2 separate regions of the Homo sapiens genome follow, and region 2 is linked to region 1. Evidence: fine-mapped expression QTL. Tissue or cell type: whole blood. Region 1 holds a variant in brackets; the other region holds the start of a gene. All regions are shown on one strand. Distances are from middle to middle.

Region 1 (2,691 bases):
ATTTCTCACAGTTCTGGAGATTGGAAAGTCTAAGATCAAGTACCACCAAGATAGGTTTCATTCAGGTTTCTTCTCTTGGCTTGTAGACAGCTGTCCTCTCACTGTGTCCTTACATGGCAGAGGGAGAATGAGAGCAAGCTCTGTTGAGTCTCTTTTCATAAGGATACTAATCCTATTGAATCAGGGATTCCCAAAGGACAATATTAATCAAATTATAAAATATGGCCCAGGACACAGGCGCAGATAAATCTATACTAAGGTGTTGTGCTGATACATAAGTCCAGTAGTGTTTCATGAGTTCATTTCCCATCACACACCAAGGTTTGGTATTTTCACTTTTTCATGGCAGATTAATCTATTTTTATCATGTTAAAGGAAAGTAAGAAGACAGGGTAACTTAAAGCATTGGCTCCTAGATTCAAAAAACAGAAAAGGGAAGAGGGAGATTATTAGGATAATTTAGAACATTTGGATATCAACTATTAAAAAATAATGGTATCAATGTGAAATTTCCTGAGTATGTTAGCAGTAATGTGGAAATGTAGGAAAATGCTCTTATTCTTAGGAGATATAAACTGACATATTTAGGGATGAATTATAATGATGTCTGCAATTTATCCCAACTGGGTCATCAAAATAAAATATAGATATGTGTGTGTATATACACATATTATGCATATGTTTGTGGTGATTGTTAACAATTGGTGAATCTAGGTGAAGATTACACATTATGCTATTCTTTCATTTTCTCGATAAATTGAAATTTCTTAAAATAAAAGGATGCGGGGAATAATCTGATATTAATAACCATCTCCTAATCAAGACACCAATTTTTACATAAAATATTTCTATCACTGCATATGTCACACTGCTCAGAGTCGAGTATTTACAGATATGTTCTCTCAATAGATTCTGCATCTCTAAATAAAGCAGAGCTTTCAAACGAAAGTTGTAAGCAGTTATAAAGGACTTCAAAAAGAATATGTTACTAACAATTGTCCAATTACCAAAATCTGACAATGATTAAAAACAAAATCTAGGGGAGTCAGCACAGTTGTCCTAATAGCACTGCTCTGTCAGTAACACTACTGTATCCTTCTTCTGTGGGAGGCAACAAAATTGAATTGGAATTAATCATTCAGGAAATACAGATACCCTGAAGCCTACTTGGGGTGGTAGGAATCCTAGGCAGGGAATGCCATAGGATGCAGGTACAAGGACAGCCCCCAAATATTAAGAAACCAAATTTATAAACCAATAAATACATGCAAAACATCTTTAAATCTTTTCCTTTGTGAAGTATTCTTGTAAAACCATCTATGAAATATTCTTGTAAAACCTTGAACCTGAATCTATTCAAGCATCTGGTGCTTCCACTTACAAAAAATACTGTGGATAGAGTAACACACTGAAAGACACCAAAAGGAAGCAAACAAATGCATTCCAAATGTAGGAAAGAACACAGGACACCAAACTTGGTTTCTACGACAAGTCAACAGCAGGAGAGAATAAAGTAGATGGGCAGATTTCTCTAGATTAAAAGACATTATGAGATACAACA[A/T]CCAACTATATGATAGTATAGACCTTTTTAAGATCCCATTTGAACAAAGCAACTGTCAAAATTTTTTTGAGATAATCAGGGAAATTTGATTATTGTCTGGGTATTAGATAATACCAAATAATTATTGATTATCTCATTAGTCCATTTTTAAGGAAATATATACTGAAATACATAGAGAGTGTGTTAAATTAGATTGCTATTTAGAAATATCCTCTTCCATGCTCTCCAATCTCACTAAAGGACCAGAGTGTGTTTCCTTACCTCTTTAGTTTTGACTTGGCAATGTAACCTGCTCTGGCTACCAAAATGAAGCAAAAGTGATAATGTGCCAGTTCTAAGCCTGGGCCTTGAGAAATCTCACATGCCCACTTGCTCTCTTGCCCCTCTGTCTTTGCTATGAGGACATACCCAAGCTAACCAAAACCAGCAGAGTGCTACCAAATATTCATGGCATTGGCTTTAGGTCCAGGCCAAAACCATTGAGGACACTGTTACAGGAGGCTGGAAAAATGGTGACCTGGGTGATGCAGTGGTGAACATTTGGTGAACTGTTGCTGTAATTTAGAAGATAGAAAATGTACCTAATGAATCTTGGACTTGGGCAAGATGGTTTCCAGGCAGAAGGATAAAAGTGTGAGCTCATTCATTTTAGTTGCATATATAATAAGGTACTATACAAAAGTGATATGCTCAGAGAAAAACCAATACAGTGTAAAATACCATGCCTCTTTCAAATACTTTGGGAAAGAAAAATACTGAAACAGAGATTAAGCAAATCTCTTTGGCAAAAAGTTAATTGTTGAAACTGCATGATGGGTACTGCAAATGGAGGATCATAAGACCCTTTGCCCTTTTTTGTGTATTTTCATCATTAAATTTTTCATGATTAAAAGAAAATCCTTCTGCCACACTGTGATGGTCTTTTTAATGTGTCAATTTGGCTAAGCTACAGTCCTCAGTTATTGAATCAAACACTAATCTAGGTATTGCTATGAAGATAATTTGTAGATGTGATTAAAGTCCATAATCAGTTGACTTTAAGGGAGATTATTCTAACTAATCTGAGTATGTCTGATTCAATAAACTGAAAGGTCTTATGAGCAGAACTGAGGCTTCCCTGGGAGGGGGAG
Region 2 (2,691 bases), 34 kb before region 1:
ACGTGAAGAAAACTACAGGAGTGCTTTGACAAGCATTTTAAAAACTAAAAAATTATGTATTTTCATACAGCAGGGCTCCAATTTTCAGCTACCTCCCTGGTAGGATGAAAATTAACACAACTACCTCATAGGCTGATTGGGCTTGGTAATGAAATATTAAAGTGTTTAATACAGAGACAGGAACCTTTATTTAGCCAACGAATATTTATTGAGCATCTATTATGTGCCAGGTCTCTCTCTTTTTTTTTTTTTTAGGTGTTGGGGATGCAGCAGTGATCAACATCGATAAAATGCTTTTCCTTATGGAATTGACATCGTAGTGGTAGGTCGGACAGTAGACCAAATAAATAATTAAAATATATAGTGTGCTAGATAGTGAAAAGTTCTTTAGAGAAAAAAATAAAAGATGAAGGGGGAGGCACAGAGCATGTGGGGAGGGAAGCGTTTGCTTGCAAGTTCACAACGGGTGGTGGGGCAATGCCTCATGAGAAGATGATATTCCCCTAATTACCAGACGGTGAGAGCCAAATGAATCCCTCAGGAGAGGCTGCTAGGGAGTGCAAAGAGCACCTGCAAACGACCAGGGGCTGGAGTCTGCTGGATCTGTTGGAGAATGGGGAAAATGTGCCAAGCAAATGGGCAAGAAATGAGGGCAAAGAGAAAAGGGGACTACGCCTGTAATCCCAGCACTTTGGGAGGCCGAGGGCGGATCACCTGAGGTCAGGAGTTGGAGACTAACCTGGCCAACGTGGTGAAACCCCGTCTCTACTAAAAATACAAAAATTAGCCGGGCGTGGTGGCTGGCGCCTGTAATCCCAGCTATTCAGGAGGCTGAGGCAGGAGAATCGCTTGAATCCGGGAGGTGGAGGTTGCAGTGAGCCGAGATCGCGCTATTGCCCTCCAGCCTGGGCGACAAGAGCGAAATTCCGTCTCAAAACAACAAAACAAAACAAAACAAAAACAGAGAAAAGGGGAGAGGTGGGGGGAACAGATCCTTCAGGCCTTATAGGCAGAGAAAGAACTCAAAATTTAAAAATAAAATGATTATATTTTAGTATTATTAAATGTAAAAACATAGATTCCTGAAGGGTTCGGTAGACGCTCCCTCCACTGTAAAATGGGGATGTCGCAACTGTCTCACAGGTTTCCCCTAGGACTAGAGGAGACAAGGGGTCGCGCGCAGCGTCTGACAGGCAGGGGGCACCCAGAAAGGGTCCCCGCCATTTCTATTGGATTCTGACGTCACGCCAGAGCGACTCCCCATGCGTCGCTGCACTGGCCTCGGCCTCCCGGCGCCGCGGCTGGTCTTAGTGCTCCCCCTAGACCTGCACATGCACAGGTGTGGCGCCCCCCCGGGCCCCGGACGAGGACGCCCTCTTAGCTTCTGGCCCGGTCCCCCGCCCCACTTCCTTGGAGAAGCCGGAACCCCGCCTACTGACCGTCCGCGCCGCGGAGGCTTCTGGGAATTGTAGTTCTGGCTCTCCGAGCCCAAGTGCACTTCCGGGTTCGGCCACAAGAGCAGCCATTGTCCCGCGCGCGGACGCTTGCTGTCGCCGAGCAGCTCGGCCCTTCAGACTTAACCCCCAGCGGCCTTGCGGATGCTGACTAGGAGAGGGGACCGAACTAGCTTAACCCGAGTCGGCCGTGTTGCAGAATCGGGGCAGGGGGTTGCCTAACCCGAGTTCGTCCTGCCGCAGAGCCGTGCTAGGCACTGAGGCGGTGACAGGCCCAGCCTGGGCTGCGGGCCAGCGGACGCCCAGGTTGGTAGGGGCGTGGGGCAGCGCTTGGTGTCCGATGCGCGCATGCGCAGGGTCTACGCGGGAAGCTGGAAGCGGTGGTGAGTGTAGCGGGGAGACCTGGTATCTGTGCGGGTGGCGCTTTAGCCTCGGGTCACCGGGGTTGATGGAGTTACTGATACAGCTGTATATTCCGCGACTGTCCTCTGCGTGCATGCGCGGGTGCTTGGTCAGGTGGTGCTCTTGTCTGGGGCCTGAGGATGCCCAGGTTGCTGGAACACAGGGCACATGCATTGATGTAAGGGGACATCTTGAGAACTCCCCTCCTCCAATGCCGGGCTTATTTAGTGGAGGCCTGAGGATGTCCGGGTTGATGGAGTGCTCCATTGCAGATTGTGGTTTCTGGAGAGGAGGGGCTGTGCCACTGTCCCTTTACTCTTGATCAGGTATTTGGGTAGGAAGCAAAAGGTTGTAGGTAAGATTCCGAGCAGGTGGCTCTGGGCCCCTAGAGCAGACAACGCGCTTCTCCAAGGTCTGGGGGCGCTGTGGTTGGTGGAGAGACCAGATTGGAGTTGCAGATTCTTGTGCCAGAAGAGGCAGTGTTGCTAGTGAACCCTTGGTGGGAATTACCCATGGGCAGCAAACTCCCAGGCTGAAGGAGGGTATCAGGGCCTAGAAACAGGTTCTGGGCAGAGGGCCCCCTGCACGTCCTGGGGGTGTCTGAATGGAAAACAGAAACTTGAACTGATAGTAGGGACCTATGTAGGATAGTGCAGAGCTCTAGAGCATTCAAGATGGGCAGAGACTCCGGGTTGGAGATACAGAATTTAAGTCCAGGAAGGACAGAGCTGCAACAGCTGCCATCAAATTGGTAGCTGGGGAGGAAGCAGTATGTTGCCAGCATCGTTATGAAGCAGGTGTTGCTGAGACCTTTACTTGGGTACGCTATTTGCAG

What was found. PIP is the estimated chance that this variant, and not a neighbour inherited with it, causes the effect.
Region 2: ZNF180 starts here. The variant in region 1 is fine-mapped to the expression of ZNF180 in whole blood (TOPMed, PIP above 0.99).

Annotation. Positions count from the first base shown.
Region 1 is chr19:44,464,847-44,467,537 of GRCh38, reverse strand. It overlaps the pseudogene ZNF285BP. Among named protein-coding and RNA genes, the nearest start is that of ZNF229, 18 kb to the right of the region's middle. The variant A/T (reference allele first, on the strand shown) is at 1,562.
Region 2 is chr19:44,499,344-44,502,034 of GRCh38, reverse strand. It overlaps ZNF180 (zinc finger protein 180), which reads left to right and starts at 1,513. Exons shown (of 5, transcript NM_001278509.3): 1 at 1,513-1,760. RefSeq lists enhancers at 1,058-1,107, 1,284-1,578, 1,418-1,627, 1,638-1,697, 1,244-1,744 and 2 more.